Linked DNA regions of Homo sapiens. The gene in region 1 interacts genetically with each later gene. Each region holds a gene or a part of one and is shown in the gene's direction. Other genes may lie near its edges. The genes, in order: XRN2, RPTOR and MPHOSPH6.

What was found.
Region 2: changes in XRN2 (region 1) and RPTOR together harm fitness less than expected from each alone (positive genetic interaction), as found in Homo sapiens cells (one large-scale study listed by BioGRID).
Region 3: changes in XRN2 (region 1) and MPHOSPH6 together harm fitness more than expected from each alone (negative genetic interaction), as found in Homo sapiens cells (one large-scale study listed by BioGRID).

What each region holds. Positions count from the first base shown.
Region 1 is NC_000020.11:21,306,268-21,309,923, forward strand, and holds part of XRN2 (5'-3' exoribonuclease 2), read left to right. Parts: intron 1-3,656. UniProt on the Homo sapiens protein: Possesses 5'->3' exoribonuclease activity. May promote the termination of transcription by RNA polymerase II.
Region 2 is NC_000017.11:80,547,724-80,551,379, forward strand, and holds part of RPTOR (regulatory-associated protein of mTOR), read left to right. Parts: intron 1-3,656. UniProt on the Homo sapiens protein: Component of the mechanistic target of rapamycin complex 1 (mTORC1), an evolutionarily conserved central nutrient sensor that stimulates anabolic reactions and macromolecule biosynthesis to promote cellular biomass generation and growth.
Region 3 is NC_000016.10:82,147,542-82,150,479, reverse strand, and holds the end of MPHOSPH6 (M-phase phosphoprotein 6), read left to right. Parts: intron 1-1,076; coding exon 1,077-1,171; intron 1,172-1,616; coding exon 1,617-1,749; 3' UTR 1,750-2,318; downstream 2,319-2,938. UniProt on the Homo sapiens protein: RNA-binding protein that associates with the RNA exosome complex. Involved in the 3'-processing of the 7S pre-RNA to the mature 5.8S rRNA and play a role in recruiting the RNA exosome complex to pre-rRNA; this function may include C1D.

The sequences.
Region 1 (3,656 bases):
CTGGGACTACAGGCGCGCCACCACGCCCGGCTAATTTTTGTAGTTTTAGTAGAGACGGAGTTTCACCATGTTGGCCAAGCTGATCTTGAACTCCTGACCTCAGGTGATCCACCAGCCCCTGCCTCCCAAAGTGCTGGGATTACAGGCATGAGCCACCGCACCTGGCCAGGAATTCCAGTTTTAATATTAGGTTCCCTCAGAACTTTGAAAGAAATTGTTCTTTTGTACTCTCTCATCTAGTAGTGTTGATGACAAGTTCGGTGTTAATGTGATGTATTTATTTAACCAGCAGTTATATAGCATTTACCATTGTTTTAAGAACTTTATTATAACTTGTTTGATCCTCACAACCACATGACTTCTACTGTTGTAATTATTTTTATTACATACAAATAATAGAAGCACGTTATTTGGAGACAACCAATATTGTTATTATGTTATAATAATTACTATGTTTATTGGCCGGGTGCGGTGGCTCACGACTGTAATCCCAGCACTTTGGGAGGCTGAGGTGGGTGGATCACGAGGTCAAGAGATCCAGACCATCCTGGCTAACATGGTGAAACCCCATCTCTACTAAAAATACAAAAATTAGCTGCGCATGGTGGCGCGCCTGTAGTCCCAGCTACTTGGGAGGCTGAGGCAGGAGAATCACTTGCACCCGGGAGACAGACATTGCAGTGAGCCGAGATCCCGCCACTGCACTCCAGCCTGGTGACAGAGCGAGACTCCATCTCAGAAAAATAATGATTATTGTTATGTTTATTATTATTTCAGATGAGAAAATGGAAACACAGCAGGGTCGCGTATCATACCCAAGGTCACTCAGCTGATAAATGTCAGAGCTAGTGTGGAAACCAGAAGGACTTAATTTTTATGCTCATATGCTTTCATTCTTTTGTGATCAGTTTTCCTTCCTAGATTTTAAAAAGATCTTTTTCTTGATAGTGTAAACTTTCATTATTAGGTACCCAGGTATAGATGTTATTTTAAATTCAGATTCATTTTGATCAGTACGTGGCTCACTCTTTGAGTCTGGAGTCTTACGTTCTTCGGTTTTAGGGAATGCTGTTTGATGATTTCTTGACCTTTTTTTCTTCCCTTTCCAGACTCAGGATACTGGTCCTCTTAGACTCATGTATTTTTATTTTTATTTTCTCTCTCATTCTCTGGCTTTCCTTGAAACCTCCCCCAACCTTTGGTGTTTTTGCAGCTTTGTTGAGGTATACTTGACATAGAATAAACTGCAGGTAATTAAAGTGTACAATTTTCTTTTAACTTTTTTCGAGTTGAGGTCTTGCTCTGTCACCAGGCTGGAATGTAGTGTGCAATCATGGCTCACTGCAGCCTCAAAGTCCTGGGCTTAAAGTATATAATTTAATACAGTGCATACATCTGTGAAACCAGCACAACCAAGACAGTGAACGTGACCTCTAAAACATTCCTTCTGCCCTTTTGTAGTTCCTTTCTACTATCCCTCCCTGCCACCTGTCTTTTGCCAACCACTGACTGGTTTGCTTTCTGACCGTATGATAAGTTTTCATTTTCTATAATTTTTTATAAATGAGATTATATAGTATATACTCATTTTTTGCCTCAGTTACTTTCATTCAGTATACTTATTTTGAAATTCTTCCGTTGTTGTATGTGTCAGTAGTTTATTTCTTTTTTGTTTTTATTTTTTTTTGAGATGGAGTCTCGCTCTGTCGCCCAGGCTGGAGTGCAGTGGTGCGATCTCGGCTCACTGCAACCTCCACCTTCTGGGTTCAAGCAATTCTCCTGCCTCAGCCTCCCAAGCAGCTGGGATTACAGGCACATGCCACCACACCCGGCTAATTTTTGTATTTTTAGTAGAGATGGAGTTTCACCATGTTGGCCAGGCTGGTCTTGAACTCCTGACCTCAAGTATCTGCCTGCCTCGTCTTTTAATTTTTGGATAGTATTCTGTGTGTAGATACACCACATTTTATTTATTTATTCAGATGATTGATGAACATTGGGATTGTTTCCAGTTTTTGGCTTTCTGAAAAAGAAACCTATGAACATCTCTGTACAAGTCATTGTAGGGACGTATGCTTGCATTTGTTTGGGGGAAAAACATTAGGAGTGAAATGGTTGGATTGTATATTAGGTGTGTGATTACTTAAAAAGAAAAACCTGCCAGACTTTTTTTTTCAAACTGGTTGTGCCATTTTACATTGGCATCAGCAGCATATCAGGGTTCCAGTTGCTCAACTTCCTCACCAACACTTGATATAGTTAGCCCTTTTAGTTTTAGGTAGTCCAGTGTACTGTTACCTTATTGTGGTTTTAACTTGCATTTCCTTCAGATGCTTATTTGCTTTCTGTATATCATCACGGGCAGGGTGAGGCATCTGTTCAGATCTTTTGCTCATTTTTATCTTCGGTTGTCTTACTTAAATGTAGAGTTTGTTACATATTCTAGATAGAAATCCTTAGTTTGATATATCTTTTGCAAATATTTTCTCTTGATCTGTGGCTTGTCTTTTTACTTCTTAACAGTGTCTTGGGAGCAAACATTTAAAAATTTTAATGAAGTCTGATTAATTTTTTCCCTTTATATTTCTGCTTTTTGTATTTAAGGAATCCTTTGTCAAAGCCAAGGTCTCCTGTGTTTTCTTAGAGAAGTTTTATAGTTTTACTTCATTCTGTGGTTTCCATTTTTTGGTCTAGTCATATGGTGAATTATCGGTCTTTAAATGCTAAAGCCACCTTGCATTCCTTGGATAAACCTCACTTGATCATGTTGTATTATTTTTATATACGTTGAATTCAAGTTTGCTAAAGTTTGCTAAAGTTTTCTTGAGAATTCTTGAGAATTGTGTCTCTGTTCACAAAAGATATTTGTAGCATTCTTGTAATGTGTAGTTGAGATGTCAGAATAATGTTGACCTCAAATTGAGTTCCTTCAGTTTTTTGGAAGAGTTTGTGTAGAGTTAGTATTGTTTCTTCCTAAAATGTTTGATAGAATTTACCAGTGAGGCCATCTGGACTTGGAGTTTTGTGGGAAGGCTTTAAGCTGCAAATTAAGTTTCTTTAGTTGATCTAGAACTATTGAGGTTACCTATTTATTTATTTATTTATTTTTTGGATGAGCTTTTTTAGTTTGTATCTTTCACAGATTTTGCCCATTTCATCTAAGTCAAGCTTGTCCAACCTGTGGCCTGCAAGCTGCATGCAACCCAGGATGCTTTGAATGCGGCCCAGCACAAATTCGTAAACTTTCTTAAAACATCATGAGATTTATGCACAGACCTTTTCTTTTTTTTTCAGCTCATCAGCTGTCGTTAGTATTAGTGGCCCAAGACAATTCTTCTTCCAAAGTGGCCCAGGGAAGCCAAAAGATTGGACACCCCTGATCTAAGTAGTTGAATTGGCTGACATAAAGTTGTTCATAGTATTTTCTTACTATCCTTTTTTTTTTGTTATTAAAATGTTTTCACTCCTGTTTTTACTTCTCTTTTGTTTTCTTTTTTCTTCCTGTTAACTTGTTATTATCCTTTTAATATTGTTAGAATCTGTAGTGATGTTACCTCTTTCATTCCTGATACTTGTAATTCTACTTTCTTTGTTTTGTCCCATTATCAGTCTGGCTACACTGTTCTCAGATAACTAGCTTTTGGTTTCATTGATTT
Region 2 (3,656 bases), on another chromosome or scaffold:
AGGACAGAAGTTGCAAACTCAAATGATATTGAGTGGGGATGGTAGCATAAGAGAATGAAACAGGCCACATTTAAGAAGAATAATGGCATAGGTTCAAAGATAAAGACAAATGGCAGCTGACATTTGGCACAGTGTGTGTGACAGTTTCTGGAGGGTGGGAACAGGGGCTCCCTGATGCCATAACTGAAGGGGCAACTGGGCTATGGCCAGGCCTCTCTCTTTGTCTTTGAGAAGTCAGCAAACTTTTTTTTTCTTTTATTGTAAATATTCATACTAATTCAGATTTATTACCAAACACACTGTAGTCCAACACTGCAGGCTGAACAACCCCATTTGTGGAGTGTTTTTCTGTTTCTTTTTTTTTTTTTTTTTTTTTGAGACAGGGTCTTGCTCTGTCATCCAGGCTGGAGTACAGTGGTGAGATCACACGGCTCACTGCAGCCTCGACCTCCTGGGCCTGAGTGATCCTCTCACCTCAGCCTCCCCAGTAGCTGAGACTATAAGTGTGCGCCAGTGTGTCTGGGGTTGGGGAGTCTCACTGTGTTGCCCAGGCTGGTCTTGAACTCCTGGGATCAAGCAATCCTCCTGCCTTGTCCTCCAAAAATGCTAGGATTACAGGCATCAGCCAACACGCTCAGCCTGGGGTGGTTTTTTTTTTTTTTTTTTTTTTTTTTTGAGATGGAGTTTCATTCTTGTTGCCCAGGCTGGAGTGCAGTGGTGTGGTCTTGACTCACTGCAACCTCCGCCTCCCAGGATCAAGCTATTCTCCTGCCTCAGCCTCCCAAGTAGCTGGGATTACAGGCGCCTGGCTAGTTTTTTTTGTATTTTTAGTGGAGATGGGGTTTCACCATGTTGGCCAGGCTGGTCCTGAACTCCTGACCTCGGGTCGTTCACCTGCCTCAGCCTCCCAAAGTGCTGGGATTACAGGTGTGAGCCACAGCACCTGGCCCTGGGGTGTTTTTTGACCAGTGGGTTACCTACGTAAGAATCTCTGTTACCCAGGCCTCCAGGCCACACAGTCCCACTGTGCTGGACGTAGCCTCCAGTCTGGTGGAGCAGCATGTTTGTAAAGTGAAATGTGTGGGCGTGGTTGTTCTGTGCTAGGAGCTACATCAACTACTTCCTGGTGGCCACTGACTGTCCTAAATGCAAGCTGAGATTTTGCTTCTTCTTGTGGTTAATGTGCAATTCCATACGCTTTTATTTTGTACATATATTCATTAGTTCTTACTGGCTCCTATTTAGTAGCCTTGCTACAGATTCCTCAAATTGACATCTTTACCAAAGTTGACTGACTGATGACTCCCAAGAAGTTTTTTTTGCCACCCAACACTTGGCATCCTTCCAGAGCTACAGCCCTTGCCCGCTCTCAGTTGGGATTCCTGCCATCTTTGTTTTGAATCAGTCTTGGTTTTCAAATGCCACTTTTACCACATTTTAATTTCTAAGTTACTGTTACTTTAAAATTATTATCAAGTTAGTTTGTTGTTTGGTTAATTCTACTATGTATAGTGAATGAGGCATATATGTATCCATAGTGTTTTTAGCTTGCAATTTTCAAATAACTAGACATATATGAATTGTAGTTCAAAATGAATCATTCACAGACCTTTGGCTAAAACAGATACGTATATATCTCCCCTATTTGTGTTTTTGGCTCACTGCAACCTCCGCCTCTTGGGTTCAAGCGATTCTCCTGCCGCAGCCTCCCGAGTAGCTGGGATTACAGGTGCCCACCACCATGCCTGGCCAATTTTTTTCATATTTTTATTAGAGACGGGGTTTCACTATGTTGGCCAGGCTGGTCTCAAACTCCTGACCTCAGGTGATCCACCTGCCTCGGCCTCCCAAAGTGCTGGGATTACAGGTGTGAGCCACCGTGCCTGGTCTAACTGTGATACTTTATAGTTATCACAGAGTTCATTTTCCTACTGGAAAGTGGACAGTGGGGATAACTGGTCTCAGATGACTCTTTTGCCTGGAATATGTGGGATGGAATGACGGGTGCTTGAGAGCTATTGCTCTGAAAGTGTTGACAGACATGCTATGTCTACACACATGTAGACTGACAGACACTCTGTCTACATGCATGTAGCACCCCTGGCAGACACATTCTGTGTACACATGTGTGGTGTCATTGTCAGACACTATTTCCATGCATGTGTAGGACCACTGACAGGCATCCTATGTCTACATGTGTAGGGGATGAAACGGTTAGATGAAGAAGGCTATTTTGTAAACCATTCTCTAGACTCAGTTGCATTGCTCTGTAGCCATACTTTGCCCAGGTCATGGAGGAAGCAGAGTAGATCTGTTCAACTAATACATGGACTGCCAAAGGTTTATGCGGTCTTTTCAGCAAGGGTAATAGCAATCCTTCATAATCTACACTACCCCCTCTGCTTTCCTCACCTTGCGTCCTCTCCACATTCCAACTGTGCCCTGTTCCACTCCCCTGAGACTGGTCTCCATATGGCCCCAGTTTGTTGCTAAATCTAAAGTTCTCTTCTCTGTCCTTCTCTGTTCTTATTTCACCTCTCAGCAGCATTCCACAATGTGGACCATGGCCTCTTCATAAAGCTCTTTCCTCACTTGCTTCTGTGTCTCCACGAAACTCGGATTTTCCTCTTAGGTCACTAGTTGTTCCTTCTCAGACTCCTTTGCTACCTGACACCTAAATGCAGGGGCACCCCAGGAATTGATCTTGGACCCCATTCTCTGTTCTGGGTGTGCCCCTCCCTAGCAGATCTCATCGGGGCCCATGATTTTAAATAGTGTCTACATGCCAGTGATGCTTAAACCCCCAATCTTTAGTTCTGATCTGGCCTGAAATTTCTGTCTCAGATGCCTACTGCCTGCTTTTTCTTAGTTTTCTCCATCACCGCTTGCCACAACCACCATCCACTCAGTTGTTCAAGCTGTAAGTTTAGAGTTTATCCTTAATTCTTTCCTCTCCCTCTCTTTATCGCCCCATCCAATTCATTAGAACCCATCAGCGTTACTTCCAAAGCATGTCTTACATTGGCCTGCTTCATTTTGTCTCCACTGATGCAGCCCCAGTCCAGGCAGCCACCGTCTCTTGTCTGGACACTGCATTTGTGTCCTGACTGGTCTCCCTATGTCCATTCTTGCCCTACAACCAGTTTTTCACATAGCAGTCAGAGGGATCTTTTATTTATTTTGAAATGGAGTCTCTCCTTGTTTCTCAGGCTGGAGTGCAATGGCGTGATCTCGGCTCACTGCAACCTCCACCTCCCGAGTTCAAGAGATTCTCGTGCCTCAGTCTCCCGAGTAGCTGGGACTACCAGTGCATGACACCATGCCCGGCTGATTTTTTGTATTTTTAGTAGAGATGCGGTTTCACCATGTTGGCCAGGCTGGTCTTGAACTCCTGAGCTCAAGTGATCCTCCCACCTCAGCCTCCCAGAGTGCTGGATTACAGGCGTGAGCCATCACACCTGGCCAGAGGGATTTTTTGAAAGTGTGAAGGGGTGGGTTGCCCCTCCACACCTGTGGGTGTTTCTTGTTAGGTGGGACGAGAGACTTGGAAAAGAAAAAGAAACAGAGACAAAGTATAGAGAGAGAAATAAGGGGACCCAGGGAACCAGCGTTCAGCATATGGAGGATCCCGCCAGCCTCAGAGTTCCCTTAGTATT
Region 3 (2,938 bases), on another chromosome or scaffold:
TCTTTTTTGGCGGAGTGGGAGGAGGCATGTGTGATAATTAAGGTGTTATGTTAGAAGTGTTTGTTTTTAATATATGCTGGTCTCGCTTTGACTTTCTTTAATTAAGCTTCAGATTGAGAAGGAGAGGGGCTGGGCAGTGGGGTGAAGAGGGAAGAAAAAGGCAGGGATTATGAAGATGTGGTATTCAAAGAGTAGGGTTTGGATAGGCGAGCATTCCAAAGTATGTCTGCTGCAATGGGAAAGGAGAGGTGCCACTGCCCGCAGAAATTGATGGGGGGCAGGGACGGGTGTTAGAAAATGGCCCTAATTACTGGATTCTGAAACACTGAATACACTCCCCCTAGGAAAAGGTTTTAAACTATTATCACTCTTTTAAGCCTTAGAAAAACTAGTTAAGACTGATTTCTCATCTTTTATTCCTTCTCCTCTTGCTAAAAAGAAGAGATTACACATTTAAAAAAAAAAAGGTCAGAGGATAATTATCACAAAAAGGTTTATGTGAAAGAGTTGGAGGAGAGACCCTGTGGTGCATGGATGTTACATGGGATGCATTATCCACTCTAAAGTTTAGGAGGGTAAGGCTGAGGTGCAGATTCCCTCCATTAAACAGGGCCAGCCTTCCACTTCTCCCACCTCCTCCACTCACCACCACCACCACCAAGAGATGCATTTAAAATTATTACTGACGACTAGTGTTTCTTCCATATGGCTTAAAGATGGGTGGGGGAAGTTCAGGGAAAATCTGAAAGTTTATTATTTCTTCCCCCACTCACCGGAATGTGTCAGCAGTATGCCTGCTTTAAATATGAGTAACTAATACTAAGATTTATGATCTTAAATACACTTTAAATTCACCCTAAGTATAATTCAGTGGGGCTTTGCCTTACTATTTTTTTGACTCAGAGCTTACTTCTCTTACACCATTGTGGTATCAAGTATTACAGAGAGTCCCTTATCAATTTTGACTAGTTCTCTAGATTATTTGACTTCAGTTTCTCTGCCTTCAGGTAAGTTTGACATCAGTTCCTTTCACAAGCGTTTTCTAGCCTGAAGGTCAGCACTGGTGTATTTTTCAGAAATTGATGCTTCAGATGAATGCTAAGCACAAAGCAGAAGAAGTTGAAGATGAAACAGTAGAGCTTGATGTGTCAGATGAAGAGATGGCTAGAAGGTAACCGTGCTGCGCAGCAGCCTTCTAATCTGGACCTAGCATTCATTGGCTCTCCCAGGAATGCTCCTCTTACCCCACAGTGCACGGCAGCTTTCAAGGGAGTCCCCCAGTAGGACGATGACTGTGATCGGCCTTCTCTTAATGGCCTACGGGGGCCACAGACCTGTCTCAGGCTGCCAGTTGAGGGCCCATTTCCAGAGCTGCTGGAAATGTGTATTTTAAAATGTACATCTCTATTTATTTAGGGTAATGCAAACACCAAAATGGCAAGGAATTTAATCACTCTTAGAGAAGTTCATAAATTGTTAAATCAGATGGTTTCTTTTAATGATAGTTTTCTTTTTCGTAATCTTTTTTATTGCATATTTGGTCTGATATTCTTGACAAGGCTTGATCCCTACCTTTTTATTTGAAATTAAACGTGTGCTGCCTGTCCTCTTGACAGATATGAGACCTTGGTGGGGACAATTGGGAAAAAGTTTGCCAGAAAGAGAGACCATGCCAATTATGAAGAAGATGAAAATGGAGACATAACACCAATTAAAGCAAAGAAGATGTTCTTAAAGCCCCAGGATTAAGATGGATGCCTTAAGCGATGGCCCAGGGGTGCTTGGTGGAAGTCAGCAGGGCATCTGGAGCTCATCCCAATGGTGTCTCTATAGTTATTAATACTGTAACGTTTACTTGTAAAGAGATTATCATTTTAGAAACATGCTGTTTTTGAAACAGATGTGTGATGGATGTTGTACATCCTTTGCTTCTTGGTATTCATTCAGAGTGGATTTTTAGCCCCTGATCTACAAATGTACATTGTTACAGGGCTGCTTCCTAAAGATTTTTTTTACCTCAGGTTTCTCTTAATATAGTTCTCCAGTCACTGACCTTGAATTGACTTACATAAACTACTGCCAATGTTTAAATTGCCCTTATGTTTATATTTATTATGTCAAGCCAATTCGTACATACAATTTGGAATCAAATGTCATAAGAATTTATTATATAAATTTATCAAGAATAAAAATGCCTCTCCAGCCTTAAGTATTTACATGCTCCCAGGTCATTGTCAGTTTATGGTATTATGTTGTTTTATTTAAAGCATTGAATTGATAGAAAAATTTGCTCTGTAATAAAAATCTACTTTCACATACTTTTTATATTTTCTTGTACTTTCAAATAACAATTTTAGTCTAATTCAGTAATATAACTTTTTTCCAAATAATAACTTTAAAAAACAGCCATTGATCAGAATATAGTGATGTATTAGGTTGAACCATAAGAAATTGCCTTTTACAGGTCAAAAATAACCTTTAGTTTCTTACGGTATAACCCAACAGAATTTACCACTGACCAATGGTACCATCTCCTAGTCTGAACTCTATTCTAAATGCTAAGTACAGAAAGAAGCACATAGAATTAAGTGTGTGTATGTGTGTCTGTCTTTCTGTCTGCAGATAAGTACCTAGGACTTCTGAGAACTACTGATTTAATTTCGCTCCCAGGAAGTGAATGAGGTACATGTCTCCTCTCTCCTCAAATCTCTGTAAGGAAGGTTTTATTGCTCTGTGACCTCAGTTCTCTGGTGAGTTATGAGAAAAGATAGGACTTTGAAGTTAATCTGGCCTTTTTTTTTTTTTTCACTGTGAGTATGAGAATGATGCACCTCCCAACTCTGGGAAGTAACGAGTTCTTCCCAGTGCCTTACCAGCACCACAATCCACGGACTTACTACCGGACTTACTACGTGTCTTATGTACCTGTCTGCACAGT